6 separate regions of the Homo sapiens genome follow, and all the other regions are reported to be linked to region 1. The links are microRNA targets in miRTarBase. Many come from high-throughput screens and were not tested one by one. Region 1 holds a microRNA gene; each other region holds the end of a gene's coding sequence. Distances are from middle to middle.

Region 1 (5,151 bases):
CCATCCTGGCTAACACGGTGAAACCCCGTCTCTACTAAAAAATACAAAAAAAAAATTAGTCGGGGGTGGTGGCGGGTGCCTGTAGTCCCAGCTACTCAGGAGAGTGAGGTAGGAGAATGGCATGAACCTGGGAGGCGGAGCTTGCAGTGAGCTGAGATCACGCCACTGCACTCCAGCCTGGGCAACAGAGGGAGACTCCATCTCAAAAAAAAAAAAAAAAAAAGAAGTAGATTGGCTGGATGCAGTGGCTCACGCCTTTAATCCCAGAAGGATTTGGGAGACAGGAGGATCTCTTGAGGTCAGGAGTTCGAGACCAGTCTGGGCAACAAAACATACATAGCAAGACCCTGTCTCTACAAAAAATTAAAAAAAAAAAAATAGCTAGGCATGATGGTACACACCTGTAGTCCTGGCTACTCGGGAGGCTGAGGTGGGCGGATTGTTTGAGCCCAGGAGTTCAAGGCTGTAATACACTATAATTGCACCACTGCACTCCAGTCTGGGTAACAACAACAACAAAAAAAACCCCAACAAGGTAGAATATTATTGCTGTCAACATAACAGTTCAAAGTGGGAAGTGCAGAGTAGTGGTGCAGCTCTGCCATCTTTAACATGAAGTTTTCATCTCTATGTCATGTCTGAAGTGGCTACTCCAGCTCCCACTGTCACACCTGTATCACACCTAGCAAGGAGGAGTAAAGGAATAGAGTTTATACCCTTTTTTCTTTTTCTTTCTTTCTTTTTTTTTTTTTTTTTTTTGAGACAGGGTCTTGCTCTGTCGCCCAGGGTGGAGTGCAGTGGCGTGGCGTGATCTCGACTCACTGCAACCTCCATCTCCCACGTTCAAGTGATTCTCCTGCCTCAGCCTCCCAAGGAGCTGGGATTACAGGCATCCACCACCACTCCTGGCTAATTTTTGTATTTTTAGTAGAGATAGGGTTTCACCATGTTGGCCAGGCTGGTCTCGAACTCCTGGCCTCAAGTGATCCACCTGCCATGCCCAGCCTATACCCATTTCTTTTAAGAGCAGATCTGGAAGATGCTCATATCCATTGGCCAGAATGTAGTCATGTAGCAATATAGTCACGTGCAAGTCAGGCTGGAAAACATAGTTGTTAACTGGGCAGCCATGTGTGCCCAGATGAAACTTCTATGCATTTTCTCATTAAAGGAAGATGGAAAGAATGAACACTGTTGGACAACCTGCAACCCCTTCCACAAATCTTTTTTTTTTTTTTTTGAGACAGAGTCTTGCTGTGTCGCCCAGGCTGGAGTGCAGTGGTGTGATCTCGGCCTCACTGCAACCTCTGCCTCCTGGGTTCAAGCGATTCTTGTGCCTCAGCCTCCTGAGTAGCTGGGACTACAGGCGCGTGCCACCACACCTGGCTAATTTTTGTATTTTAAGTAGAGACAGGGTTTTGCCATGTTAGCCAGGCTGGTCTTGAACTCCTGGCCTCAAGCGATCCACCTGCCTTGGCCTCCCAAAGTGCTGGGATTACAGGTGTGAGCCACTACACCTGACCAACAGAAAGCTTTTTCTTTTTTATAAATGCCAAAATAACAAAATTAAGTCTGCCACACTGCCCCACCCTACCCCTCTCCCCTAGGGCTGTCCTCTACTGGCGCTCTTGCATACCCCTACGTCCTCTCATGTCCTCACTTGTTCCTTATCTGCAGTGGAGTTGCAGCAGAAGGACCGGGCACTGGTGGAGCTGCTGCGAGAGAAGGTCGGGCTGTTTGCTGAGATGACCCATTTCCAGGCCGAAGAGGATGGTGGCAGTGGGATGGCCCTGCCCACCCTGCCCAGGGGCCTTTTCCGCTCTGAGTCCCTTGAGTCCCCTCGTGGCGAGCGGCTGCTGCAGGATGCCATCCGTGAGGGTGAGGGAGCTCCCAGGGAAGAGTCCAGGCTCAAGCACTCACCGTCACAGAATGTGGACATGTGACTAGACATGGACAAACACAGACAAGTGGGATGCCAACCCTATAAACCATAAACGGCCCTGAGTGCCTCTTCTGGGCCAGTTCCTGGGAAAGGCAGGGGAGGAGGTGTGGTCCTTGCTGCTGCTCCATATCGTCCATGCTGCATGGACTCTGCTGCCTCGTAGGCATTTACTGCCCTTTACCTCATCAGTGGTTGTGTGAGTGAAACCCCACTGCCAGTGCAGGGGGCATTCCCCCAGATGCCCAAGTGTCCCACATGTGGGGGTGAATGGCATTCCCCTCAGGGTCCTGTGTCATTCCTGTTCTCACCTCTTCCTCTTTCCCCACAGTGGAGGGTCTGAAAGACCTGCTGGTGGGGCCAGGAGTGGAACTGCTCTTGACACCCCGAGAGCCAGCCCTGCCCTTGGAACCAGACAGCGGTGGTAACACGAGTCCTGGGGTCACTGCCAGTGAGTACCAGGGCAGGGGACCAAGGTAGTAGGTGGGAGGGGCCAAAGTTAGTAGAGTGGTACCAGGGATCAAGTGGTATCAGGGCCCCAGGGAAGTGAGCTCAGCCATCCTTTTCTCCTTCTCAACAGATGGTGAGGCCAGAACCTTCAATGGCTCCATTGAACTCTGCAGAGCTGACTCAGACTCTAGCCAGAGGGTAGGTCCTCAAGAGGTTCTGGGACTTGGCAAGAGGGTGGGAGAGGGACAGCCAGCCTCTGGATCCTCAACACAAAGCTGTCAGGGGCAGGCACCCAGGATTTGTGTGCCTGCTGACTCCCCATTCTTGCCCATTTCTGCAGGATCGAAATGGAAATCAGCTGAGATCACCGCAAGAGGTGAGATGGGAATTGATGGTATAGGAGACTGAAGGGAGGATGTTCTTAGTCTGAGTAGTTAGAGCCCAGTTTGGAGTGGGGTGGGGAAAGCGTCTACATTCAAGTATGTCTCCGGATCCTACTGTCCCCACACCCACCCTTGTTCAACTTTTGGGCAGTTCTCCCATCCTAAAGCTGGGGCCCTGTTCCCACCCTGTCTGTCCTCAGGAGGCGTTACAGCGATTGGTCAATCTCTATGGACTTCTACATGGCCTACAGGTCAGTAGGACAAGGGCTTGAATGGGGAAGGGGAGGAGCCAGGCTAGAGATGCCTGTTTAGGTGGGGCATGGTCATCCCAACAGGCCTTTCTAAATACCCTCCCAATCCAAGCTCTCCAGGAGCGATGATCTGGGCCTTGGAGGGTGAAGGCGAGGGGTAGAAGAGCACAGGGGTTCTGATAAACCCTTCTGCCTGCATTCTACTCCCAGGCAGCTGTGGCCCAGCAGGACACTCTGATGGAAGCCCGGTTCCCTGAGGGCCCTGAGCGGCGGGAGAAGCTGTGCCGAGCCAACTCTCGGGATGGGGAGGCTGGCAGGGCTGGGGCTGCCCCTGTGGCCCCTGAAAAGCAGGCCACGGAACTGGCATTACTGCAGCGGCAACATGCGCTGCTGCAGGAGGAGCTACGGCGCTGCCGGCGGCTAGGTGAAGAACGGGCAACCGAAGCTGGCAGCCTGGAGGCCCGGCTCCGGGAGAGTGAGCAGGCCCGGGCACTGCTGGAGCGTGAGGCCGAAGAGGCTCGAAGGCAGCTGGCCGCCCTGGGCCAGACCGAGCCACTCCCAGCTGAGGCCCCCTGGGCCCGCAGACCTGTGGATCCTCGGCGGCGCAGCCTCCCCGCAGGCGATGCCCTGTACTTGAGTTTCAACCCCCCACAGGTAAGGTGGCCTGCAGTGGTGAATGGACCTGGGGTGGACATAAGGGTCCATGGAGCCCGAAAGAAATTGGGCCATTGGGGATTTGAGCCCAAATGCAATCAGTCAACTGACTTGAAGGATATTGAGATACTGGTTGGAGAACTGAAAAGAAATGTAGATGGGTGCAGGGGTGGAGGAAATTAACTCGGGTCGTGGTGCTGAAAGAGGCCAGTTGGTGGTGGATCTCCTGAAGGGGACTCATGGGTGAGCCCCAGGGGGGAGAGCTGCTGCCTTCAGCCAAGCAGAACCTCCAATCTTCACACTACTCAGTCCCTGACCTGCTGTTCTTCCTGCCCACTGTCCACAGCCCAGCCGAGGCACTGACCGCCTGGATCTACCTGTCACTACTCGCTCTGTCCATCGAAACTTTGAGGACCGAGAGAGGCAGGAACTGGGGAGCCCCGAAGAGCGGCTGCAAGACAGCAGTGACCCTGACACTGGCAGCGAGGAGGAAGGTAGCAGCCGTCTGTCTCCGCCCCACAGTCCACGAGGTGAGACCCTGGCGGAGACATGGACCAGAGGTAGAGTGCAGCCTGGGTACAGGCCATTGGGCTGTGGCTTCCAAATGGGCCCTAACTGACCTGTGAGGCTTGTAGTAACTCTAGGGAGGGACTTCCTGTTTTGTCTGATGATGAATGGGTGGTGGAAGTCTAGGAAGCAGGAGGGGCCTCTCTCCTCCAACTGGTTGGTGATTCCCAACCTTTAGAAGTAAAAACAGATTCTTTTTTAAAAAGGCATGGCGGCTCAGGCCTGTAATCCTAACACTTTGGGAGGCCAAGGCAGGAGGATCGCTTGAGCTCAGAATTTTGAGGCCAGCCTGGGCAACATAGTGAGACCCACCTTCTCTACAAAAAAAAATTCATTTATTTATTTTTTTATTTTATTTAATTAATTTATTTCATTATTATTTTTTGAGATGGAGTCTTGCACTGTTGCCTGGGCTGGAGTGCAGTGGCGTGATCTTGGCTCACTGCAACCTCTGCCTTCCAGGTTCAAGCGATTCTCCTGCCTCAGCCTCCCAAGTAGCTAGGATTACAGGCGCCCACCGCCACGCCCAGCTAATTTTTGTATTTTTAGTAGAAATGGGGTTTCACTATGTTGGCCAGGTTGGTCTTGAACGGCTGACCTCGCGATCCACCTGTCTTGGCCTCCCAGAGTGTCGGGATTACAGGCATGAGCCACCACGCCTGGCTAAATTTTTTTTTTTTTTGAGATGGAATTCTCACTCTGTCGCCAGGCTGGAGTACAGTAGTGAGATCTCCGCTTACTGCAACCTCCGCCTCCCAGGTCCAAGTGATTCTCCTGCCTCAGACTCCCGAGTAGCTGGGACTACAGGCACATGCCTCCACGCCCAGCTAATTTTTGTATTTTTAGAAGAGATAGGGTTTCACCATGTTGCCCAGTCTGGTCTCAATCTCTTGACCTCATGATCCGC
Region 2 (5,151 bases), not on the chromosome of region 1:
GGCTCCTCTATCAGAACAAGGGCTCCCTCAGCACAGAGACCACATCCCTTCCCTTTTCTCCCTCCCCACAGGATTGGCCAAGGGTTTCAGGACAGGAAGGAGGTGATTGATGATACACTGTCTTTTATTCTCTTTTAAGACCATGGAGACCTGTGAGGATGGCAACGATCTTGTCTTCTTCTATCAGGTTTGCGAAGGTGTTGCGAAGGCCAGCCATGCCTCCCACACAGCTGCCCAGGCTGGGCTTCCTGACAAGCTTGTGGCTCGTGGCAAGGAGGTGATGAGATCCAAATGTGCAACCACCTCCACATCAGAGCTCCCTTTCATTCCTAGTCCTACTGGGCCTGGGTCTAGGTCCACAGGATTTCTGACCCTTATTTCCCCTTCTCTTCCCCACTCCCCTTACTCCTCCCACCTTCTTGCTTGTTCCTAGGTCTCAGACTTGATCCGCAGTGGAAAACCCATCAAGCCTGTCAAGGATTTGCTAAAGAAGAACCAAATGGAAAAGTGCGTATATGGCCCCAGTGTCTTTACCCTCTCTGCATCTTCTCCTGCAACTCTTCTCCCCTTTTCAGGGACTCAGCCTTCCTCCAGCACTTTGCCCTTCAGAAACCCACCATTTCTTTCTGAAATCCCTAAATCTTCAAGATCCCAGGTTTTCTGTGCCACAGCCTCTCCCCTCTGCCCAGGGATTTGGTTGTCCATTCTGCCATAAATCTTGCGATTTTCTCTCTTCTTCAGTTGCCAGACATTAGTGGATAAGTTTATGAAACTGGATTTGGAAGATCCTAACCTGGACTTGAACGTTTTCATGAGCCAGGAAGTGCTGCCTGCTGCCACCAGCATCCTCTGAGAGTCCTTCCAGTGTCCTCCCCAGCCTCCTGAGACTCCGGTGGGCTGCCATGCCCTCTTTGTTTCCTTATCTCCCTCAGACGCAGAGTTTTTAGTTTCTCTAGAAATTTTGTTTCATATTAGGAATAAAGTTTATTTTGAAGAAAGATATTGTTTCTTTAGTCTCAAAACAAGAGACTAGGAAAGATCCAAAACACAGAGCAGGAGTCCACAGGGGAACCTGCCCTGCCTCAGTAAAAATACAGTGTTGTTGCTGTAGGAAGACTCCCGGATTCTACCCCAGGATACTTCATGAGAACGAACCCCTTCAGAGAGGCCCTACAAAACAGATTAGAGGGAAGACAGAGGGGTCCAAGGGAGATGGTCTCTCTTCTCAAGTAGGAACACCCCAGCCTCAGACAGACACAGCAGGAAGGGGCCTGAGAGGCTGACAGAGGCAGGATGGGTGCAAGGCAGGGGTGGAGGGGAGGGACCAGCCCGGGCTGCACCAGTGGGAGTGGCTCCACCCTTCCCACCTCAGAGCCATGGGGAGCCAGGGCTCTGGCGGGGTGCCCTTGGTGCAGGCTCCCTACACAGTCCTGCTGCTGCCGCTGGGGACAAGCCGCCAAGACCCAGGGGCCCAGAGCTTCTTCCTTTGGGTGAGTATCAGCCCAACAAGAGGTCCCAGGGGAACTCTCTCAATAGATCTGCCCTTTATATTTCCATTCAACTTGAGGGCCCACAGTGTTCCCGCCTGCCTCCCCTTGCCCTCCAGGTCCTCAGTGGCCAGTCTGGGTTCACACTCAGTGACCACACAGTGAACCCAACTAGGGGTGGAGAGAAAGGGCCATAACCCAGAGCCCTACTGTGGCGTGAGAGTCAGCCTCTGTGATTGCCTTTCCCAGCTACGCAGGATGCAGGCTCTGGAGAGAGAACAGGATGCCCTGTGGCAGGGTCTGGAGCTGCTACAGCATGGCCAGGCCTGGTTTGAAGACCATCTGAGGGAGGCACAGCGACAGCAGCTGCATCTAGGGGCCCTTGGTGAGGTATGGGGGCTGCCCCTCTGTGTGAATGGGGGGAGGACCAGGGAGGGAGGAACAGGGAATGTGTAGACACAGCCTGAGACCACTCTGGAGAGGGGAGAGTTAATGGTCAGGGATCATGAGTTGGAGGCAGCATCGTAATGACAGGATGCCACCAAGTGTTAAGTTGGTGTTCATTGTTGGGGCTGGAGGAAGCTGGTCTGCATTCCATTCAGAGGGATTTGGATCACTCCATGGAGATGAGGGTGTGGCCTGGATTATTCCAATGGGGCAGGGATGGACAGGGAGGCTCCATGAAGAGTAGTGAAAGGGGGTATTGTGCTATTTGAGGGAGATGGAGGAACTGATGTGCTAAAGAGATGGAGGTGGAGAGTACTGGATTTTCCCACCTGCCTGGGAGGGTACTGGGACGAGGGGATCCAGATGAGAGGGATGGCCTGTGGTGACAGGAATAGAGTGGCAGACGACCTCAGGTTTTCACCATGTTGTCAGCCTCCAACTCCTCCTCTAGAATTTTCTAACAGATTTACACTCAGAGCCTGGTCGCCCCCCGTTAGCCCAGATTCAAAAGGTGAACATCTGTTTGCAGAATCTGATTCATGAGAAGGTGAGTTTATTGTTTTCAGTTTAGACTTTTGGGAAGTTGGACTAGAGAGGGGAGTTGTTGGGGTCAGTGCTGGCTTAACAGAAAACACAGCGAATTTCCCCTCCAGTTCTCCCCAAGTCCACTGAACAAGGCTAGTTCCTGCACCACCCAGGATTCAAAGGAAAGACGAAGGGAGCAGAACTTGTGGCAGCAACAGGTAAACTTCAAGAAGGAGGGCAGGAGCCCCACCCTACAGGGCTGGGAGGAGCCCAGAGGCCCCATCTGTTTCTCCTCCAGGAGTTGTCAAGGCAGCAGAAAGGAGTCACCCAGCCAAAGGAGGAGATGGCTCAGCGGGGCTGCACCAAGGGGCCAAGAGGCCCTACCCGTGTCTAAACCCTCCTCTCACTCCCCTAAGCCTGGTGAAAGAGTCAGAAGCCCCAGGCTCCTTTTTCTGTTTCTTAACTCAACAGCTAAAAAATGGCTCCAGGTAGTGAGTCAATGAAGTTCAGACATGTTGGTGTAAAGTTTCTCCTCTGCTCCTGAAAACTTCATCTTCTTGGTGTCTCATGTCCTCATTCTCCCCTATATGACATGCAAAAACGATCTTTCTTTGAAATCCCTCTGGGAAGAAGCATGTTTATTGAAACTGTCCTTCAGCCTTAAATACAAAAATAAAACTGAAACTGCTCCAGAAAGCAGCTTTCTCCAAAAATGTCTTTGGTTTGTTTCTCATAGGGTTAGGAAAAGTGCATTGTGGGAATATCCATTGCCCTCTATCCCAGTCTTGCAGGGTGTTTTGTTTTGTTTTGTTTCTGAGATAGGGTCTCACTGTCGCTCAGGCTGTAGTGCAGTGGTTCGACCACAACTCACTGCAGCCTCAACCTCCTGGGCTCAAGTGATCCTCCTGCCTCAGCCTCCCAGAGTGCTGGGATTACAGGCGTGAGCCACTGCACCCAGCCCCAGTCTCGAAGTTTCTAAGAAAGGAAAGGGATGTGATGGAGAAAGAAAACCTTCATTGGCTGGGCACGGTGGCTCACGCCTGTAATCCCAGCACTTTGGGAGGCCGAGGCAGGCAGATCACCTGAGGTCAGGAGTTTGAGACCAGCCTGGCCAACATAGTGAAACCCTGTCTCTACTAAAAATACAAAAAATTAGCCGGGCGTGGTGGCGGGCACCTGTGATCCCAGCTACTTGGGAGGCTGAGGCAGGAGAATCGCTTGAACCTAGGAGGCAGAGGTTGCAGCGAGCCGAGATTGCGCCGCTGCACTCCAGCCTGGGCAATGAGCAAAACTACATCTCAAAAAAAAAACAACAACAACAAAAAAGAGAAAACCTTCATCCCAGCTAGGAGAGGTAAGGTCCTAAGACCTATGTGACAAATGTGTCCCAGGTCTTCTTACCAATGGGGCAGGTTGAAAATAGTGCTGGAGACCCATCCCTTTAGAGCCCGTTGTGTCACCAGGAGGCCAGGCCTAGCAGAAGCAGCACCCCTCCAACTGTGCCCCACCAGGGGCTGCCCGCAGCCAGCCCTGCCCCAGCCCTGCCTTGAGTCACCAATGTGAAGGGGGAAAAGGCAGGGGTGGCCGTGGTGAGGATCGGGTCAGATGAGCCGGTAGGGGTGGTGTGCCGGTCCTGTGGGGAAAAGGAAGAGAATGACAGGGTGTGCTAGAGCTGTACTCAAATTAAACCTACACCACCCTCCCCGGCCTTGCCCACCCTGTGATGGAAAGTAGTGGTTCCTCACCTGCGGGGCTGGGGCCGATACCAGGAGCCGGAGGAAAGCATGAGTCGGGGGTACTGGGTTGGCTTCTCGTCCCCCTGCAGTCACAGTCACCATCACCACGGAATCCGGGGCCGCTGAATCTGGGACCTCCAGCCACAGGCGGCCCCAGGCCGACTCATTCAGTTCCAGGTGAGCCCTGGAGAGAGGATATAGGCGTCGCTAAAGCTCCAGGCTGCCCAGAGCCTAGAGTCGGGACGCCTGCAGGGGCACGGGAGCGGAGAGGAGGATTCTGAGGGCCAGTCGGAGGGGGACAGGGGCAGGGCTTGGGATAAGCATTGGCCGGGCAAGATGCCAGAGGGAGCTGGAGGGTTCATGAGCCTCACCTGGAGAGGTTGGAGGTGAGGGAGAAGCTGGGGTTGACGAAAGTCCTAAGGTCAAGATCCTGAGGGCCCGAGAAGCTGGCGATGCGGAGACTGAGCGGGACTTTGCTGCCCGGGGCCAAGAAACCCGAGGGGCCACTAAGCTGCAGAGAAGGGTTCTTCAGGGAAGGGGCCGCTCTAACTCTCTCCAGCCCCAGCCGCACTTTCCCCTGGCGTCTCACCTCCAGAAGGACAGGGACTACAGTGCTAGGCTGAGGGGCAGCCCTGTGCAGGCGCCGCCCCGCTGCGTCCTGGCCAATCAGCTCCAGGGAGAAGGGTCTAGGGGTGGACAGCAGCGTGGGCGACAGCGAGGCTGCGAGGAGACCTCGCTCCGGAGGTCCCACGGGCTCCAAGGGCACCTGGCCTAGTTCGGCACCCTCTGGGACCCCTCGAAGGATGACGTGGGAGAAATGCGGCTGAGGATCCCCAGGATTGGCTCTGGAACCCAACCCTGTCACTTCTACCAGCAGCTGGGTCTGAAGACCTGGGACAGGGGCGAGGAGGGGAGAACATTGTGAGATTCGGAGACACAGGGAGAAAAGAATTAAT
Region 3 (5,151 bases), 130 Mb from region 1:
TTGTTTTGTCCTTTAGATTCACATCTTGAGTGAATCCTCTCAGACCCTCCAGGTATAATGATAGATAATAGATAGGTATAATAGATAATATAGGCCAGGTGCAGTGGCTCACACCTGTCATCCCAGCACTTTGGGAGGCCAAGCCAGGTGGATCATTTGAGGTCAGGAGTTCGAGACCAGTCTGGCCAACATGGTGAAACCCCATCTCTACAAAAAATACAAAAATTAGCTGGGCGTAGTGGTACACACCCGTAATCCCAGCTACTCAGGAGGCTGAAGCAGGAGAACTGCTTGAACCTGGGAGGCGGAGGTTGCAGTGAGCCGAGATTGCACCATTGCACTCCAGCCTGGGTGACGGAGCGAGACTCCATCTCAACAACAACAAAAAATAAAAAAAAAATAAAGGATCATATAACAGATACAGCTATGACCCCCGAAGTCCCTCTCCAGTTCCTAGAAGACAGCGCTAACCTTCCCTGTCCCTGTGTTATCAGTCCAGAAGCCTCCCTATGCAGGATAGGGTGGGTAAGGTAATTATCAGCTTGGCTTAGCCTAAAGCTGCCCTGGTACTGCAGACAGGAGTATTGGATCTGTCAGAACATCAGAGAAATGATGACCACTGCCTTCCTTCGCCATCAGGCTATTTTCTGCCTCATTGCCCTTGTTTCTGTCTTTTGTAGGTCCTTGTACAAGCCATCAAGGAGGCAAAGGAGCAGCACCCAGACATGTCAGTGACCAAGGTGGTCGTCCACCAGGAGACCGAGATTGCTGATGAGTGAGCTCAGGTACTGGGCGTTCCTGCTGGGGCTGAGGGTGCCCACAGTCCCAGCCTGAGAGGGCTCTGGATGGGACCCTCGGACACACTGGGAGCCCATCCCCACAAAGAGGTGTTCACCCTGGGACTTGATAAAGGCAGACGAGAGGCTGATGTGGGAGATATAGGAAATTAAGTATTTGGCTCCAACTAAAGCAGCCTGTAGCAGTGCCAGCATTATTGGGTAAGAGGAGGGACCCAAACTTGGATATAAGCCCCCAGCTACCCTCTGAGTCTTCATGCATCCTGCTGGAGATCCACTTCACCTTCCCCCTCTCTTCTCTCTACTGCTCTGCTTGCTGCTGTCACAGGTCTCTCTTTTTTTTTTTTTTTTTTTGAGACGGAGTCTCATTCTGTCACCCAGGCTTGAGTGCAGTGGCATGATCTTAGCTCACTGCAACCTCCGCCTCCCGGGTTCAAGGAATTCTGCCTTAGCCTCCCAAGAAGGTGGGACTACAGGCATGTGCCACCATGCCCAGCTAATTTTTGTATTTTTAGTAGAGACGGGGTTTCACCATGTTGGCCAGGTTAGTCTCGAACTCCTGACCTCAAATGATCCACCTGGCTTGGCCTCCCAAAGTGCTGGGCTGGGATTACAGGCATGAGCCACCGCGCCTGGCCAGTCACAGGTATCTTTGAGCCAGAACCTGGGAAAGCCAGAGGAGAAAAAACCAAGAAGAGCAGGATCAGGCTGTCTGGAGATGGGTGGGCATGCAGAGCAGGGAGGTAATGGCTGAAGCTCTGAGACCAGAGTAGAGAGCTGGGAGCAGGGAAGCTGCTTTTTGGGAACCAGGGATCCAGATAAATTCATGCCTAAAAGTAATTTTAAAAAGACTTGAAGAAGCCACCAATCTCACTAGGTGGGACCAGGCCCTGTAAACCTGCTCACATCCCCATTGTCACTGATGGCCACAGGAACTTGGCAATGGGACTAGGAAGCTTTTTCCTTTGCAGGATTTTAAATTTTGCTTCTTTGTTTTCTCTAGGAACTAACCTACCCCAACTCTGCCCTTCTCCCATCCAAGAGAAACCAGCAAAATGATAAAGAAGCTAACCTGCCATAGTCAGACTTCAGACTTTCAAGATTATTCTAAATCACCAGAAAATTAATTTCAGTTTCTATTGGGAGTTTATACCAAGAGATTCTTCTAGATCTCATTGATCCTTTTGAAGAGCTTTTTCTATATTAGGATATCAGAATTGTTCAACTTTTCACTCTATAGACTGTTTTAAGAGTTTTGGGGTTTTTTTAATTGGGTGGTTTGTAACCCCTTCAGCCTAGCCTCTCTGCCCATTTATTTCCAACCCCAACAGACACTGACAGGGTCCATGGAATTCTTCGGGAAATCCTCCAAGGACTCTTGTCAGCTGTGTTGGAAGCCAAAGCCAGCTTAGTGGGACTTCCGCGTCTCTCCCTAGTCTTATCCCCTTTGGATGATGGCAGAAACTTCATGAACCAGCCCTTTCTCAGAGCCAGTGATGTGAGTGTATCAGAATGCCAGGGAGGGCACCAGCCCTGATCCACAGACCTCGGAAAGATGCCCCTGTTCCTTTGTTGCGGGTGGTTTTGGTAAGGCAGAGCCCTCTGCTGAGAATGTAGTATTGTTTTTCCCCTCTCCCTCCTGCTTTCTTTTTGGAGCTTCTTTGGGTCAAAGACATGGAAGTTGCTTCAGATATCTGATACTGTGAATGTTTGAACATATCCGTGGCCTTCACCTCTCCAGCTACCCTTTTACCTCATCAGAAGCAGTGGCTCAGCTAAGTGCTCCCCCTAGCTCCCATCTCAGGAGACCAAATCTCACAGAAAAATAGGCACTTTGGGCCAAAAGCTCTAATGGAACATTTTTAGTGGTGATTTGGGGAAGGAAAGTTAATGAGGTTTTTAAAATAAGGTTTTCTAGTTTTGAGAGTGTGCACTTCACACAGGGGAATGGGGTTACTTCTGTCTGATCCTGGGCCTTTCTTTCATCCCAAATGACAAGGAATGTGGCTCAGAGAAGGGTTTTTCTTTTTTGACCTTTCTTCTCTCAACAGGAACCTGCCTGAGGACACCCTTCTAGAGCAAGGAATTGACTTTTAGGAGCCGTTCTCCCCACAAGACACCACATGACAAGGGGTATAAGCCCCAGCCCTGCTCATTCCCACTCACCAGCTGAGGTCTGTCAGGTTTTGAAGGCTTGATTTTGTGGTGGGTTTGGGGCTTAGTTTTCCTTTTTTTCATTTTGATTTTTGAAAGTGAAGATGATGCCCTAATTCCTGGTAAGGATTTGGGGCATAGTTTTTTGTTTTTTTGAGACGGAGTTTCGCTCTTGTTGCCCAAGCTGGAGTGCAGTGGCGCGATCTCGGCTCACTGCAACCTCCGCCTCCTGGGTTCAAGCAGTTCTCTTGCCTCAGCCTCCCAAGTAGCTGGGATGACAGGCGCACACCACCACGCCCAGCAAATTTTTTGTATTTTTAGTAGAAACGGGATTTCACCTTGTTAGGCTGGTCTCGAACTCCTGACCTCAGGTGATCCACCCACCTTGGCCTCCCAAAGTGCTGGGATTACAGGTGTGAGCCACCACGCCCGGCCGATTTGGGGCATTTTTATTTAACAGAACTTCTCTAACCTTCCAACTGCTTCCCACAAACACATTGGCCTCAAGGCTCCTTAGAATCCCAGTTCCAGCTTCCTAAAATAGACAGTGGGTATCGGGCAGCAGTCACTGGGGCTCAAGGGCAGTGAGCAAGAGAAATGTCTAAAGCTGCTTCTCCCAACACCGTCCAAAGTCTCCACTGCCTGAGTTTTGTTTCGGCTGGTTTGAACTCATTTCGGGTGTGTGCATTTTTCTTTTGGTACCCATGTGAGACATGAACAACAGGAGGGAGGGAAAGAGCCCAGGTGGGACGTGGGACAGGCTTAGGGGAAAGAGCTTGTCCTATCTCAGGAACAAAATTATAGGCTGTGGGCAGAGGGTCTGAAAGGTGGGCTTTGGGGTAGTGCCCAAGCCTGGTCGTGTTGCCAGGAGTGGTGACAAGAAATGCAGCTTACATCAAACGAACATGTAGTGCATGCCCACTGCCTGATGGCCAGATGGCCTGTAGGAAGAGCTACCAGGGCTTCCAGACCTGTGGAACGAAGAGGATGGGGAAAAGGCAGAGGGCACTGAGTGTCCCTTTAAAAACTAACCCACTGAATATTCCGTGTGATCTAGAACAGTGTGGCAGCTTTCACAGCACAGGACCGTTCATCGGGGGCCTAAACGTTTCCCTCAGCTCTGTCACCAACTCACTTCTCTCGGCTTCGTTGTCTGTAAATTGGATGAAAAGAGCTCTAATGCCTTTCAGGCTCTTAGAAGCCATAGATTTGGACAAGCCCAGCAAGATGGGTGTCCTTCCAGGCCTCTTCCCCTTTCCTCCATCTCTGGCAACAGTTCTTGGGGTTTGGCAATTGTTTGGATTTTTTTTCTTTCTGCAGTTGTGTGTATGTGTGTTTGTGTGAAGAAAAACAGACTCTGTCCAGGTAGAAATGGTGAGGAGGGGGAAGAGAATTACATTTCCAGGGTCAGAAACTTGGCAACAGTTTTCCTAGAGTGACTCAGACACACCACAGTAACAACTCTCGCTGCAATTTTATTTTAATTTGAGAAATAAAGATTTCCTCCAAGCCACATGAGGACTCTGGCACCCACCCACAAAGCAAGACCTGTATTTATAAGCCGAGGGCTCAGGGAGCCTAACTGCGGGACCCGTCAGGGCCCCGTGACCCATCCCCGTCCCCACCCCCCCCTCCACCGCTGGGCCCATCAGTGTGTGTTGGGGGGATGCTTGGCAGCTGGGGGTGAGGAGACAACAAACCTCGGGAACTGGAGCCAGAGCTGCGGCCTGACTGACGCCTTTTGATGCTCACGGGAAATTTCTGCCCAGGATCTCAGCCCCAGGCTGGTTGTTTCTACAAATCTCTCTCAAATGTATTATTTTGGTGACAAAAATGAAGGAGCTTTGTAAATTTTTTTTAAAATTATGAATCATATCAAGTAGTTGTTTACATTTCTTGAAAAAATAGGAACTCGGGCAGCAGAATCAGATTGGCAGAATCTTTAGACTACACAGGCAATAATCAAGTCTGCTGTTTTGGCCTTTCGTAGTAGAAGTGGTTGTAGTGTTTAGATATCTGTTTGGTCTTGCTTCTTGTATTGCATTTTTTTCAATAAACAACAACAAAAAGAACTCTCTCTGTGAGGATTGATCCACTTTTAAATTTCTCTTCTACCAGCAACTTGGGAAAAATTAAATATGGGTGGGGGAGACCTAAACTCAAGTCATTTTCTAAAGTAAGTTACCCACATTGACCAAAA
Region 4 (5,151 bases), not on the chromosome of region 1:
CTTAGAAATCAGTGGATACTTGGTGAGGGCACCAAGTATCCACTAACGTTTCTTAGCTTCTCTGTGTGTGTGCCCATTCATAGGCAGATCCTGGACTCTGTCTCTAGGAGATTAAATTTAAAAGATGCTGGGTCCTAAAGCTCGACCCAGCATCATTTAAACTGGACCGTGTCAATCTGGGGGGACTGGATTGTGAGTGGGATGATTGTAACCAGAAGCCATAGCAAAGGGTGGACTAGCCGCCTAAACATAGAAAGAGCAGGGCTTCCTTCTGCGTTTCACGGGCTGCACTGACTTCATCTGCTCCTGTGGTGTGGGCTCAGTGCGGGAGTCTCTACAGTCCCAGCATGAGTGGGAAATGGGTGGCAAGTGGCCCTCCCTGTTTTGATGAGAGACCTTGGAGGGAACAGAAGTGCCCTTGTCTCGGTTGTAGGTTTCTGTCCCCTTTCCAGAGCCAGTGTAACCACCTCCACCACAGATAGAGATTGGCCCAGTGTCACTGGGTGTTGGCTCCTCGGTCAATCTGGATTTTAATGGTTCCTACTCTTTCTCCCCTCAGGGCCCCCATGCTGCTTGGGCCTTGTGCCAGTTGAAGAGGTGGACAGTCCTGACTCCTGCCAAGTGAGTGGAGGAGACTGGTGTCCCCAGCACCCCGTAGGGGCCTACGTAGGACAGGAACCTGGAATGCAGCTCTCCCCGGGGCCACTGGTGCGTGTGTCTTTTGAAACACCACCTCTCACAATTTAGGCAGAAGCTGATATCCCAGAAAGACTATATATTGTTTTTTTTTTAAAAAAAAAAAGAAGAAAAAAGAGACAGAGAAAATTGGTATTTATTTTTCTATTATAGCCATATTTATATATTTATGCACTTGTAAATAAATGTATATGTTTTATAATTCTGGAGAGACATAAGGAGTCCTACCCGTTGAGGTTGGAGAGGGAAAATAAAGAAGCTGCCACCTAACAGGAGTCACCCAGGAAAGCACCGCACAGGCTGGCGCGGGACAGACTCCTAACCTGGGGCCTCTGCAGTGGCAGGCGAGGCTGCAGGAGGCCCACAGATAAGCTGGCAAGAGGAAGGATCCCAGGCACATGGTTCATCACGAGCATGAGGGAACAGCAAGGGGCACGGTATCACAGCCTGGAGACACCCACACAGATGGCTGGATCCGGTGCTACGGGAAACATTTTCCTAAGATGCCCATGAGAACAGACCAAGATGTGTACAGCACTATGAGCATTAAAAAACCTTCCAGAATCAATAATCCGTGGCAACATATCTCTGTAAAAACAAACACTGTAACTTCTAAATAAATGTTTAGTCTTCCCTGTAACCTTCAAACTGAGTCATGTGTGAGTCAGCATTTTCTTTACATGTTAGAATTCAGTCTCTGAGTATTTGAAGAAAATACCCACTTACAATATTTTCAGGTCCATCAGAAATGAGATCTGAAAAAGGTAGTAAATGTTTCTCTTTTTTGTTTTTTAAAACAGTGAATGTCAGTTGTGCTTGGATTCATGCAGAACACATTACCGTTTAGTCCACAAGGGAACCGTTGTACAACAGACCAGGAAAAACAGGTTCATAGTTCTCTTACCAACTGGACTTGAGATGAAGTTTAGGTCATATTGAAGAAATAGAACTAATCTTTTTTATATAGGTGTGTGTTGAAGACCAAATATTTTCTCCAAAATACTGTTTAGCTAAGTGCTGTGCCACACATGGACATATGGTGCATAATAAATTCACTTCCCTTCTTTCCAAAGATACACCAACATTGCCAGAGTAGTTGACTCACTAGTTTAAAATCAACATTTACTTACTGTTGTCCAACCAAAGGATCAACCATAGATTCTTTTTTAATTGAAATTTTAAAATCTTTATATGTGGAAGTGGAATTAGATGGAGACTGATGCTTGCAATGAAAGCCTTACTACGCTTTGTGTTTTGGGGCTGGAGAGGGTGGGGGGAGCCTGTATTTTCTAGATTTCTGTAAAATTGAGTTACAGATGAAATGCCACTTGAGACAATCTCGTTAAGTGGGGGGCCAGACCCTGGCTTTTAAACATGAAGAATTTGATAAACAGGGTCCTAGGGAAGAGTCACTCTGACTGTTTAGGGCAAGTGCATCCTCTGCTGGCCAAAATAAGTATAGCACCTGCTATTCCTGACTTCTGCATCCTTTTTCCATCAAGCTCAACGTCAGAGAGAACTTCATGTGGAAGTGCAGCATGGTTTTCAGGAAAGCAGTATTTTAAAAATATTATTTAAAAGGAAGGACTGTAAGGAACAGGTAAATGTTAGGAAATGAGAAGCAGAGCAGGGAAGAGAAGAGAAAAAATAAGATACTGTGATTTCAGACAACCTGGCATCACGGCCCAGAGCTCACTTCTGGGGTGGGTAGGGCTGACGCTCTCAGTCATTGCTTTGCTATCCAGAGGCCCCCCAATCTGAGCTGTAACTCACCTTCTAGCCCCACTGGTTTTTACATTTTTTCCTTTTTCTCCTTGATGATCTAAGGTAGCTGTCAAAATGAAGTCTGGTGAACTTTTCTGAAGTGATAGGTGAAACATCTGCTTTCTGCACAGCACTGGAATCATAGCACTCAATGGATTTAGCTCTAAAGAGAAATTTAGCACATGGCTCACAGACCTCCCTAAGCTGGGGAGCCCGCTGTGGTGGGACAGGCTGGCTGGCAGGCATGAGCAACTCCTTTACTCTGAAGTTGTGACAGAGGGGCTGGACTCTGTGGTTTCTTTTTCTTCCAATGCTGAGATTGATCATCGGTGATACTATGGATGACAGTTCAGAAGAGCCAAGTTATATGAACAATTGACCCACAAGTAACTCAGTGTAGGCTGATTTTTGGCCTTACCCTCAGAGGTGAGGCTGCTCCTCTGGGAGCACAGCAGAAGGCAGGGAAGTGTGCCAGGAGCAGGATAGCTTCCCAGCCACCCTGCCCATGCCACACCCTGCTGGTCTACTTGTGTTTGAAGCTTAACTTCCCAAAGACTCAGATGCTCTAACTTAACTACAGATTTAAGACTAAGCCTGGAATCAAGTTGAAATGAACCTAAAGCTATCAACATATTTTGTCCAATTCAAAATAAAGTAATTCAGTGTTAACTGTCGTCAATTCCCAAACATGCGGAATGAAGCCCTGAATATTGTAGAATTAACTAGTGATTTAGTCCAGCTCAGTTTGGGAATAATTATCCCGATTAGCTTTCCTCTCAGTTGAAATGCACAGCAAGTCCTGATGTGGCTCTTCTGTAGACTGTAGGTCCATTCTTGCTGCAATCAGAATCAGAATCTCAGAATGGGAAGGAACCCATTCTACCAATCCTTCATTTGTCAGATAATAAAATGAGGCCCAGGAAGATAACGTAACTTCTCCTGATTCTCTACAATTACCAAGGGGATGGTATCGCCTCAAGACCTTTCTCAGAGACCAGCCACTCTCTCCAGGCAGCTGCTTCTTGTGGCTGCCAGCTCCCACGAAGGCCCCGGTGACCCCCACCTGGCATTCACACCCTGTTCAGTCCCCTCCCACATCACACAGGGTCAGCCTGTGACCCATATGACAATAGTGACGCTATGTCACTTCTGAGCTTGGGCTGTAAAAGACTGTGGCTCTTGTATACATCATTCTCTCTTGCTGTCTCCCTCACTCTTGGATCACTTGCTCTGGGAGAAGTCATATCCCAAGCGGCCCTATGGAGAGGCCCACATGGCGAGGAACTGAAGCCCTGCCTAATGGCCAAGGGAGTGAATTTGCTAATAGCCCCTCCAGCTCCAGCCAAGCTTCAGATGGCTGCAGCCCCAGCTCCTAGTGTGACTGCAACTCCACGAAAGACCCTGAGCCAGAACACCCGGCCAAGCTGTCCCCAGATTCCTGGACCTCAGAAACCCTCTCACTCCTGGGTGAGATCACAAGTTTGTTGTTTCAAGCTAAGTTTGGGGGTAATTTTTTACCGCAATAAATAAGACACTCAGGGCTATGACTAGCATATTTTTAAAAATACTTGAAAGGCACACATGGCTTAGGATATACAACACAGAAAGTGATTTAAAAAAAAAAGTGGGTGCTCTCCAGTAGAGAAGTGACTACATCAGAAATTAATGGTGACAAGTGCAAACAATAAGGTATTCTGACCTCTTAAATAGGAATATGAAGGAATCTTAGGAAGACAATAGGCCAAGTGGCCACCTCTAAGAATATGCTGATGTACAAAGAAAGCAAGACCTGTCTGTAATTTTGGGGGGCACATTAGCAGGCTAATCACAGGTGAGGAAGACTTGGCATTGCTGAGTTCCCTTCTACATTTATGCAATGTTCCTTTCTTCACCCGCCCTTCTCAGTGACCAGCTTATCCTGGAACAGCCTCAATGAGTAGCTCGTTAATACAGAGCTCTTAATCTAAAGAGCTATGCTCTGTTACTAACAGGATTCCAAATGTCAGTGAGATTATCCTGCAATGGTTATAGCCATGAACTTCAATGAGCACTTACCCCCAAACCAAAAGGATACTCTTCAATTAGTTTAAAATGTTATGCATAATCAAAGGTGATTGTTAAAGATGATCTCTAGTAAATCTATTTCATTATCTCCTCATCTATATCAAAACCAGCAAATGGCCCAAGTAAAACCTGAAAGAAAATGGCAGGGGACATGAGAAACTATGGGGAAAACTTAGAATTCTGACGGAGTTGCAGAAATCTTTAAAGAAAAGCCTCTTTATTGACTGTTTTATTAAGCATGCCCCTCTGCTCCACTCAGAACTGAGGAGTCTACAAAAACTGTGGGCAATCCAAGAAGGCTGGTTATTTTCCTGCTTTCTGCCAACCCAAAGCAAACTGCTCTGCCATGTCTGTTTGTATTTCCTGAATCCTGAGCCCTCAAAACACTGCTTTATGAAGTCAACAATGCCAAAACTGAAATTTGCATTTCTATTCTAAGATATAGCTGACAAAATGTCCTTTTCTCCTGCATCCTCTCAGAGAACACTTAATAACATCTAAGTTTATTTTCTAAGGATCAAGAAAACAAAGTTTTCTCATGAATTGCTGAATGATAGTTTTTCTTGCCAAGGGCTAAAAATTCAGGATACCCCCAAATCAAATTTTCCTAAAACAAAATATATTACA
Region 5 (5,151 bases), not on the chromosome of region 1:
ACTTTTTTAAATGAAAGTATTTGATGTTCATCTCAGAAGTTTTATTCTTTAGGTTTTTTTTAAGTGTATTAAATAAAGTTAGACTAATGAGAAGTTTTAAAGTATAATGAATTGTTTCTCCCCGTTTTACAGTGGAGAAGGGAAACTGCCAACATGCGTTGCCACAGGAAGCCCAATCACTGAGTATCAATTCTGGATGTGCAGTGTATGCAAACACGGTGTCCTTGCTCAGGAAATAAGCCACTACAGCTTCTGCCCCTTATGCCATAGTCCAGTGGGATAAAGGAATGATAAACTGTATATAACTGTAAAATATATGTAGCATATATACATGGCTATATGCTGTATATGTAATAAGGTTTATTTCTGTGAGTTTTGTATGAAAATCAGCCTCATTATTTATAGTTGAATTTTTGCACAAAATATATGTTAATAAAATAATTTTTATGGCAATACAACTGTGAAATAATAAGGCCGATTTTCATATAAATGTATGAAAATCAACCATGTTTTCTCTCACCCTCTCTCTTTTGTTTATCTTGTTTTTGGTTACATGATACCATGGAAATATTCCAAATAAATTTTTTTCTCACAGTGTCAAGGTAACTGAATTCATTAAAAAATCTTGAAGGGAGTAGGGAGTGGGGGAAGCATGGGAGTGGGGCAAAGTTGAATTTAGAGAATTTTTATAACCCATGTTACAAGGAAGTTAAACAATTGTAATAATGAAATGAGCTTTCTCTATAGCCATATTTAATTAAATAAGTGTCGAATGTCTTCTTTATTGTATTTTCAGAAGTGAGGCGATGGCATTTTAAGACATTTTTTACAATCTGAATTGTTTCTAATAGCCCTATTCTTCTATTTTAAAACCTGTCCTTTTAGTCTCATTTAAGAGATGGCATTTGGAATTTACACTTTCATATGATTGTGCAGAAAACTTGCCTCTATTTATAATGAAGATAACTTAAACAGAAATATCCATTTTGTAGTTATAGCTTCTGTTGAAACATTGTCACTAAGTTGGACCGTTTATTTACACAAGTATTGTTGAGGGAGTGATTTTTTCTTGATATGCGTCTGTTTTCATTTATTATTAATTTGAAAGATAAACAGTTGTGATCCATAATGGATCATTTCTTATGTCTTTTACATAGCTAATAATGTTCTCTGTTTATTTCTCATGAATTCCCATTTTGTGGCTAAAGACCAGACCTTTGCACTATTTCATCAAGATTATTTTATTGAGGTTTGGCTTACATATAGTAGAGGCAATACATAGAGATACGCAACTTTGTTTTTGCAGCTACAATACACTTTCTCAATCTCATATGTTTTTGTCTTGTAGAGACAGAGACAAGTTCAGCATGTTGCAGATTGGGAATAGTGAGCTATGAGAAGAGATTTAGAGCCTAGATGAGCTTAGGATAGAGAGTGGGCTCATTGGCCTAAATAAAAAGAGAAGACCAGAAGTCTTTGAGGTCTCTGTCTCTATTCATGCGCCTCGTGGAAAATTACCTTGGTACAATGGTAGCCTCTAAATAGACTGCCTCGCAAGCTATTCCAGAGGTCATGGAACAGAAAGCCTTATAAACCAAATAAAAATTCTCAAAATACATTGGTTTATTGAACCAATTTGCAATACACAGTGAGGAACAAGGAGAAAGCAATGATAGATTAACACTGTTAGTGTAACGTGCCAGTGGAGTGGAAAGACCGCAACACCTGAATCCTGGGTTTTGTAATGTTTTTATGTCCTGACTCACATTCTGTCACATACGCTTTCCCCTAATAGTCGGGTTACAAAAAGGACCAGAGTGGCCGCTTGAGCCAGATGACTCAATCAGATGAAATGTGCCTGAGGCCAACGATGTACACTTGCTCTATAGAAGGGTGTCAGGGGCAAGTACACTTCACCACAGCAATAGCTTGCCTATTAGTCTGCTGAGCAGTCATGAATTTTATTGTATTTCTTGGGTAAGGACAGGCCAGAATGAGTGTCACCAGTGGGTAATTGAATCAACTTCTCACACATACTGAAGGCTTTATATGTCTCATGCATACTTAGTGTATCATGAATATTTGGTATCTTTGTGGCTTTTCATATTTTTAGTGCTTCATGAATATTTGGTATCTCTTGCTCCTTTCTATCTGTGGTCACACATACACGCTCTATTAACTTTGCCTAATAAGTCTCCTAGGTTACTAACTTACTTACCTAAATGTAACACAATGAATTCCAGCTTTCTCATTTGTTCTATACCAGAATGGGAAATTTCCCCAAATCAGAAAATCACATCCTAACAAAGAAGTCTGTCTAAGACAGTACATCTCCTGTTGAACTTGCATCTTTCCACAGGACTTTCTGTTTTTAGGGATGAGACTATTCTCTGCTTCATCAAGGAAAGAGAAATGTTCAGGGTTGTAGGGATGGCACACTTATTAGTTCTGCCTGTCTGAAAGGTTCCTGCAGGACAGTTTGGTCAGAGCTGCAATTCTTAGTCCATGGTCTAATGCTTGAGTATCTCTTCTTTCCCTTTCCTGTCTCAGGAATCAGCTGAGAATTCATTCGATTGTCATGCCTCTAGCCCCTTACTGTGATTTGTTGGTTGCACTTTCATTTGCTTTAGTTCTAGAATCACCTGTTGACTCCTCAGACTTCACCTAACTTTGGAAACTCTCTTTTGGAGGCTTCTCATTTCCCCCTAATTCTGTGCTGCCTGAGCCCTAGAATTTTCCCACCAACGAATTATTCCAGGTAGATCCTAAGTTGCTGGATCTAGTTGATATTTAAACAATATCTAGTTGATATTTCTCATTCAGTTGGATCCAGAAACCAGTATCTCTAAAAACAACCTCTCATACCTTGTGGACCTAATTTTGTGTGCGTGTGTGTGTGCGCGCATATGTATATAGACAGGCACATCTTTTTTACTTTTGTAAAAGCTTATGCCTCTTTGGTATCTATATCTGTGAAAGTTTTAATGATCTGCCATAATGTCTTGGGGACCTTTGTCTTCTGTGTAAATGGTACTAGAGAAAACACCTATATTATGAGTCAATCTAGTTGGTTTTATTCGACATGAAGGAAATTTCCAGATAACAACACTAACAAACTCTCCCTTGACTAGGGGGACAAAGAAAAGCAAAACTGACCATAAAAAACAATTACCTGGTGAGAAGTTGCATAAACAGAATTAGGTAGTATATTGAAGACAGCATCATTAAACAGTTATGTTGTTCTCCTTGCAAAAAACATGTACTGACTTCCCGTTGAGTAATGCCAAGTTGTTTTTTTTATTATAAAACTTGCCCTTCATTACATGTTTCAAAGTGGTGTGGTGGGCCAAAATATTGAAATGATGGAACTGACTGATAAAGCTGTACAAATAAGCAGTGTGCCTAACAAGCAACACAGTAATGTTGACATGCTTAATTCACAAATGCTAATTTCATTATAAATTGTTTTGCTAAAATACACTTTGAAACTATTTTTCTGTATTCCAAGAGCTGAGATCTTAGATTTTATGTAGTATTAAGTGAAAAAATACGAAAATAATAAACATTGAAGAAAAAAATAACTTGTGTTTATTCCACGTTTTCTTTATCTATAACTTACGGAGAACACGGTGTTTGCTGTGTCTTCATTTAAGTATTCTGATGGGGGTTGGTTAGGAGGGTATTGGGCTCCAGAGTGGAGAAGGGGAAAAGGGAGCAGGAGGTACAATAGATATACAATACCACTTTTGCTACCAAACAAGGGGGGAAAAACCCCAACAACCTTCCAGAGGCACTAGGCAAATGTCAGATATTGGAGGTTGCTGTGAGCTACTCCTTAATGGTCATGCTGAGTTCTCATTTAGGAACGAAGGAAATTATGTCCTACTAGACCTATAAGAGAAAATAAAGAATACTACATTTGATAATGTAGCTCCAAGATTTTCTACTCAGTTTCAAAATGAAAATAGGAATATTGTATTGCCTCTACTGTCTATTTTAAAGACCATTTTCTCAATTCATTTTTTTCTCTAAGAAACTAATATTTACTGGTTTTTTTTTTTTTGAATATAAAAAGCAGGCCAGGCGCAGTGGCTCACGCCTATAATCCCAGCACTTTGGGAGGCTGAGGCGGGCGGATCACGACGTCAGGAGATTGAGACCATCCTGGCTAACGTGGTGAAACCCCGTCTCTACTAAAAATACAAAAAATTAGCTGGGCGTGGTGGCGGACGCCTGTAGTCCCAGCTACTTGGGAGGCTGAGGCAGGAGAATGGCATGAACCCGGGAGGCAGAGCTTGCAGTGAGCCAAGATAGTGCCACTGCACTCCAGCCTGGGCGACAGAGCAAGACTCCGTCTCAAAAAATAATAATAATTAAAAAAAAAAGCAAAAATGTTCATGGCAGAAATTTTCAAAAATACATAACGGTATAGATGAGAAAGTAAAATTAGTTGATCTTTATAAATAAAATATTTTAGTTGAATGTAAGAGATGAAAAAAACTGAAGTGACACTGAAGGAATTTGTATAATTGGTTTCTTCGTACCAAAATCAGTATTTGTTCTTAAGAGATTTCTTTAAAATTAAAAGAAAGTAGACATTAAAAGGCTTTGGGAAGCCAAGGCAGGCGGATCACAAGGTCGGGAGTTTGAGACCAGCCTGGCCAATATGGTGAAACCCTGTCTCTACTAAAAATACTAAAATTAGGCAGGCATGGTGGCGGGTTCCTGTAGCCCCAGCTACCTGGGAGGCTGAGGCGGGAGAATCGCTTGAACCTGGGAGGCGGAGGTTGCAGTGAGCCAAGATTGTGCCACTACACTCCAGCCTGGGTGACAAAGCAAGACTCTGTCTAAACAAAAAAACAAAACAAAATTATTTAGCTAATTTATTGTTTGGCAGTTTAAATTTCTAGGTAGTAAAATTGAGAGAGATTTAGAAAAAATGAGATGCTTCTACACACTACAATGGCTAAAATTGACAAGAGAAATAGTGAGGGTATAGAACAGCTGAAACCCTCATACATTGCTGATGGAAATGCAAAACAGTACACTCACTTGGGAAAAGTTTGGAAGTTTCTTCTAAATTTAAATATACACTTAACATAGAACCCAGAAATCTCACTCTTAGGAATTTACCCAGAAGAAATCAAAACA
Region 6 (5,151 bases), not on the chromosome of region 1:
GGAGAGGCATCTGGTCCTATTTTAATAGTATGGAGGGGAAGTATACACATACATGAAAAATATAGAGAAACTCCTGCACAGCTATCCCAATAACTCTGGTTGTTTTGGCATTGTTTGCTTTCATCATCATTCCAGTTACCCAACCACCTAAAATGGTGATCAGGAAAGCAATCCTATAGTTTTAATTGTCGGTGCCTAGGTAAGAGCATAGGGAAGTGTTTACTTTTGGGAAATCTGATGGTGCAAAGACCATGACCAGAGCCTGGATTGAACAAACTCAATGAAATTTTCAGGCTGCTTAATATGATTCAGTTAAGTCTTCAGTGTGAAAGAAATTTGCAGTTACATTTTTACACCTGATAAAATCAAAAGACTGAGGAGGTAAATCATCAGCAGTGTTTAGAATTTAATTCACGTTGGGCGAAATTCATAGTAAGCTAGATCATACTGACTTGGAGGGATTCTTTAACAGTGTTTTTACTTCTCCTATTCCAAAGGTTTCTTAACCTATATAAGCAATTAGATCATCTAGTATAATGCATACAGCATGCTGTATCTCCAAATGTCAGAAGAAATGTCTGAATATCTAACTTGTCTAGCCTCATTCCTTGAAATGACCCAGATTTGTGAATATAAGAAACAAGCCACAGAAATAAAACTTCTTAACTCCTGCTCCTGTCTTCACACACCATGTTTTAAGTTAAATTGGCTAAGTTCTATCAGTGAACAATTGCTAGATTTAATTTAATAACTTGACTCCCTAAAATGTCCATGTTCATTTTCCTCTAGGGAAATATTTTTAATTCAGTTGAGCAATAGTATTGATTCACTTCTAATTTTTTTTTCTCTTTGTGTTTTATTTCTTCAGATTGTTTTTTCCATTTGCATTGCTTTCTGGGGAGTTAGAAGCATGAAACAACTCACCTCTCACCCTTGGAAATAACCTGAATTTGTACATAATTCTCTTCTTTTAATGAGTTGTCCACACGCATATTATGACTGCATATTAAAATGTAATTATTTTATGTAATGCTTATATGAACTATTTCTTCAATGAAAAGTAAAATTACTTATTTACTATTGTTTGCCTTTCACATTTGTTATTTTCTATTAAAAATTAAAGTCAGTTTTGGTTACTTCCCCCCTTTACTACAATTAAAAAAAGATTTCAAATATAATGATGTTATATTAACTGATAGCCTTATATGACAAGTATAAAAAGAAGGGATGAAACTTAAAAACAGTAAAAACAAGAAGGAATATTGCCTTTACATCAATTTGAAAACAATGTTTCCTTTGATGTTTGCTAAAATTATGCATAGATACATGTTTGTAGTCATAAAAATGTATTACATTGGTTGTCTTCCTAAGGCCACAGTTACCTTTGCAATCCATATAACCTAAGAAGCTGCATTCCAGAAAAAGACATCACTGAGGCCAGGCGCGGTGGCTCACCCCTGTAATCCCAGCACTTTGTGGGGCTGAGGTGGGCGGATCATGAGGTCCAGAGATAGAGACCATCCTGGCCAACATGGTGAAGTCCTGTCTCTACTAAAAATATAAAAATTTAGCTGGACATGGTGGTGTGCGCCTGTAGTCCCAGCTACTCTGGAGGCTGAGGCAGGAGAATCGCTTGAACCTGGGAGGCAGAAGTTGGAGTGAGTGGAGATTGCACCACTGCACTCCAGCCTGGGCGACAGAGCGAGACTCCGTCTCAAAGAAAAAAGACATCACTGAAAGAAAAATGAACAGAATTTGTCAGAATTAGTTTTTTCAACAGGTTACTTTGTCATACATTTCTCTAATATGCTTGGTCAATTTGTTTTGGCAGACTGGGCAGCATGCAGCAATTCTGCATTATTTAAAGTTATCAGAACAATGTTAATTCTCTAAATAAAATTACCCAAGGTGTTGTGTGTACATTGTTCATTGGGATTGTAAAAATCCACCAAGTGTTTCGTTAGGAGGGAACTGACAGGGATAAGCAGGATGAAGTCCAAAGAATGAGAACTGGAAAAAGTTAAAAAAAAAATCTTTATTTTTCATTTATCCAATATTTCTTGAAATCAAGTTAAAATTTAATAATTTAATAATAAAATTTAATAATTTAAATAATCAAAGACACATGTACTAAAAAAAACTAATGCTGTTCTTCATTGAGCTTTGCCTATGTATCACTGGGTTAAGGAGCCTGACTTAGATAATCTCATATTAGCAATACATTATTTAATCTTTGAATGGACAAAAATATAGAGTATTAAGAGAATCAGACTGCAGGTGTCTATGTGAACTGAGGATACAGAATTGAAGCATATTTAGTTTTCAAACTGGAACAGCAGAGGAAGATTAAATTTTGCATGATGAAAAAGCAACACATTCTATCTCAAGTATCAGAAGTGGGTTTGGCTTTGCTTCATTCTTTTTATACTTCTTAATTTAACACATAGTTATAGACAATACGTAAGCCTATAACATATATTGAATCCTGCTTTTGTCCCTTAACAACAATTTTCACAGAATTTTGTATACATATACAGAATCATGTTACAGTAGGGAGCCCTCTGCTGGCTTGAAATTAGGAAATTTAAGGCATAAACATTCTCAAGACCCTGATTCTACATTCTAGAGACTTTTCAGTGGGTAAAACACATTCTTCAGTAATGGCAAAGAAAAGAGACTTTTTGCTAATCTTTACATAGTTGTTTAGTATGTCAGAAGAGCTTAATGATTCCCCAAGGAATGATACATAAATATGTGTATATGCTTTAATATATGTGAATTTATAGGATTAGCCTAAAAATGAGTTTAATAATAGAAATGTTAATAAATAATTCCCCCAAATGAGAAAAGATCCTTTTGTGGTGAAGTTCAGTTTTCTTTGAGTAAATTGAATTCTGTCTATTCTCTCTCTTCTCTCTTGGGTTTACCTCACTGTGATTGTGAATGGTTTTCTATTAGAAATACAGATATTTTCAAGATACAAATTTGTGCCAATGAAAGTGGGAGTGGTTACCAGACAGGTAATGTTCCAGACACCTCCTATACAAAAATTATAACAGTGAAAAAATTAAGACAATGAGAAATCTGACCTAACAGACTCCATCTTGCTTCTAACCTCCAAGGTGTCCTTGTTTATTCCTGGGCACAGGCTGAGCTAACTTTGGTAGGAACTTAGTTTATAGTTTGCCTTTGAAACAAAAATGATAACGGCACTTTCTTAAAACAAACCCCCTTCTTGCCTGGGGACAAGGCTGCCTTTGTGGGACTAACAAATTAGCCACAAGATTAGAAAATAGGCTTAGGAGTCATACAGCTAGAGGCTACAAGATTCGAACTCTCCCCAGTTGCTCCTAGGGATAACATCATTATTGTGAAACCTCAGATTGGTGTTGGAGATATTTTTCAGCTCCTGCACTCCATGGATCAGCTGGCACCACCCAGATGGATAAACTGACTCATCTGGTCTTGTGGCCCCCACCCAAGAACTGACTCAGCCAAGAATAGCTTCAAGGCTCTTTGATTTTTATCTCTGACCTGATCAGTGAGCACTCTCCATTCCCTGGCCCCCTACCCACCAAATTATCCTTAAAAAACCCAGTCTCCGAATTTTCAGGGAGACTGATTTGAGTAATAATAAAACTCCAGTCTCCTATTCAGCTGGCTCTGCATGAATTGAACTCTTTCTCTATTACAATTTCCCTGTCTTGATAAATCGGCTCTGTCCTGGCAGCAGGCAATGAACCCATTGGGCGATTACATTTCTAGGGCCTCTGTGCATTATTAACCAAGGCACTTTATTCTTCACTTTATTCTTTAACCCTGCTAATTTTCCAGTCCAGTTTTCTTTTGCAGAGCACTAATACATGATGACAGAACATACAGCTATTATTAATGTTGTAAATTGATCTTGAGTGATACCATGTAATGTATGCTTACTGGAAGGACTTTAACACACTCTCTCTCTGTCTCTGTCTCTCTCTCTCTCTCTCTCTCTCTCTCTCTCTCTCTCTCTCTCTCTCTCTCTCTCTCTCGGGAAAGCCCTAAAAATAGGACTCGTCAATTACTCACCACTTCTATCGGAGAGATGCAAACTGACTTTGCAAATCATATGAAGATATTTACTTTTCCTAATCTACCATAAGAAAAGATAGAGGAAAGGAGCATTTGTTTAATGAGTAGTCCTCTATTAGTATTATTTTATTTAGTCTCTACAATCCTGTTAGGAGCTGTTAACACTACTTTATAGCAGATAATTTTGAGTCTGAGGTTAAATAACTTGTACAGGCCCATGAAATGTAATAAGTGACCAAAATAAAATTTAAACTCTCTGAAGTCGAACATTGAAGTCCATGATGTTTCCCCATTCCACGATGTCAGACATCTGAATAAGGCAAGCCTTTAAAAGTATAAGCTGAGGAGTTTAAGTTCAGAGTATTTTCAATTCAATTTGATGCTCCAAGATACAAAAAAAGTTCTCAGGATAAGTATTTTAGTCATAAGATTAATTGACAGGGTGAATGAGTCCAGAACTTCTAAACCTTCTAAGAATGGCAACATCGTAAGTTTACTTATAGGATTGCCATATGTCTGAAAGAGGCTACAGGACTTGTCAGTTTCCTCCAGACTTGCTCATTACCTTAGCTCTATTAGTTATGCCATTTACTTCCATATCATCTCATTCCATCAAATTATTTTTGTTAAACTGAATCTAATCGTCTCAGAGTCCTGATATTTAGCAATATGTGCATTCCTAATCATGAATCAGATGTTCAATTAGTTGCTAAAGTATATAAACCCTTGTATTTAACATTAACAGCTTACATGATAGTTTATTAAATATTTTCAAATTTCATTTTTACTAGTGATTATATAATTTAATCCCTCAGTGTGGAATCTGCAATAGAATCATTGACTGGAATTCTTTAACATATGGTATACATTATAGTGTACAGTAATAGGATTTATTCGGGAGAACAATAGAAAATAAGCTTCCTTTTTAATGTCTCGCCCATGTTCTCATAGTCATAGACTCCAGAAACCCAAGATAAAATAGCAAAAAACAGACTAGTTTGACTTTCAGAATCTTAAAACATTTTTTATGTTATAATTTTCAGCAACATGATGGAAGCAGCTTGGCTCTATCTTAAGCCT

The links. The annotated mature microRNA hsa-miR-6738-3p reads CUUCUGCCUGCAUUCUACUCCCAG and lies in region 1 at 3,210-3,233, shown strand. An mRNA with a match to its seed (bases 2 to 7 or 8) in the 3' UTR can be bound and repressed. Matches are read on the target gene's strand: a 7mer-m8 pairs with bases 2 to 8, a 7mer-A1 pairs with bases 2 to 7 and ends in A, and an 8mer does both.
Region 2: the mRNA of MSH5 is a reported target of hsa-miR-6738-3p. The part of its 3' UTR that is shown has no 7-base or 8-base seed match.
Region 3: miRTarBase lists EPB41 as a target of hsa-miR-6738-3p. Seed matches in the 3' UTR shown: 8mer at 2,254-2,261 and 7mer-m8 at 4,884-4,890.
Region 4: the mRNA of BOC is a reported target of hsa-miR-6738-3p. The part of its 3' UTR that is shown has no 7-base or 8-base seed match.
Region 5: the mRNA of WDR35 is a reported target of hsa-miR-6738-3p. Seed matches in the 3' UTR shown: 7mer-A1 at 933-939.
Region 6: the mRNA of AGMO is a reported target of hsa-miR-6738-3p. Seed matches in the 3' UTR shown: 7mer-m8 at 1,646-1,652.

Annotation. Positions count from the first base shown.
Region 1 is chr1:155,949,355-155,954,505 of GRCh38, reverse strand. MIR6738 (microRNA 6738) reads left to right here and starts at 3,170; the gene lies at 3,170-3,233. ARHGEF2 (Rho/Rac guanine nucleotide exchange factor 2) reads left to right here. Exons shown (of 22, transcript NM_001162383.2): 15 at 1,678-1,878; 16 at 2,271-2,390; 17 at 2,520-2,587; 18 at 2,730-2,765; 19 at 2,973-3,023; 20 at 3,234-3,677; 21 at 4,024-4,207.
Region 2 is chr6:31,761,679-31,766,829 of GRCh38, forward strand. MSH5 (mutS homolog 5) reads left to right here. Exons shown (of 25, transcript NM_172166.4): 23 at 140-277; 24 at 434-507; 25 at 742-998. The coding sequence ends at 853. SAPCD1 (suppressor APC domain containing 1) reads left to right here and starts at 978. Exons shown (of 5, transcript NM_001039651.2): 1 at 978-1,490; 2 at 1,737-1,877; 3 at 2,386-2,481; 4 at 2,588-2,677; 5 at 2,758-3,172. The coding sequence starts at 1,377. The coding sequence ends at 2,853. VWA7 (von Willebrand factor A domain containing 7) reads right to left here. Exons shown (of 17, transcript NM_025258.3): 14 at 4,785-5,086; 15 at 4,567-4,706; 16 at 4,205-4,379; 17 at 3,912-4,092. The coding sequence ends at 3,916. It overlaps MSH5-SAPCD1 (MSH5-SAPCD1 readthrough (NMD candidate)), which reads left to right. Exons shown (of 29, transcript NR_037846.1): 23 at 140-277; 24 at 434-507; 25 at 742-1,490; 26 at 1,737-1,877; 27 at 2,386-2,481; 28 at 2,588-2,677; 29 at 2,758-3,172. It also overlaps SAPCD1-AS1. RefSeq lists an enhancer at 1,572-2,127.
Region 3 is chr1:29,115,019-29,120,169 of GRCh38, forward strand. It overlaps EPB41 (erythrocyte membrane protein band 4.1), which reads left to right. Exons shown (of 21, transcript NM_001376013.1): 20 at 681-785; 21 at 1,801-5,023. The coding sequence ends at 779. It overlaps TMEM200B (transmembrane protein 200B), which reads right to left. Exons shown (of 2, transcript NM_001003682.4): 2 at 4,411-5,151. Among named protein-coding and RNA genes, the nearest start is that of TMEM200B, 6.3 kb to the right of the region's middle.
Region 4 is chr3:113,286,116-113,291,266 of GRCh38, forward strand. BOC (BOC cell adhesion associated, oncogene regulated) reads left to right here. Exons shown (of 20, transcript NM_001378074.1): 20 at 560-1,344. The coding sequence ends at 747. CFAP44 (cilia and flagella associated protein 44) reads right to left here. Exons shown (of 35, transcript NM_001164496.2): 35 at 815-5,151. SPICE1-CFAP44 (SPICE1-CFAP44 readthrough (NMD candidate)) reads right to left here. Exons shown (of 52, transcript NR_183050.1): 52 at 815-5,151. Among named protein-coding and RNA genes, the nearest start is that of BOC, 77 kb to the left of the region's middle.
Region 5 is chr2:19,908,690-19,913,840 of GRCh38, reverse strand. It overlaps WDR35 (WD repeat domain 35), which reads left to right. Exons shown (of 27, transcript NM_020779.4): 27 at 133-3,578. The coding sequence ends at 283. Among named protein-coding and RNA genes, the nearest start is that of TTC32, 9.3 kb to the right of the region's middle.
Region 6 is chr7:15,197,077-15,202,227 of GRCh38, reverse strand. It overlaps AGMO (alkylglycerol monooxygenase), which reads left to right. Exons shown (of 13, transcript NM_001004320.2): 13 at 869-1,911. The coding sequence ends at 943. Among named protein-coding and RNA genes, the nearest start is that of DGKB, 300 kb to the right of the region's middle.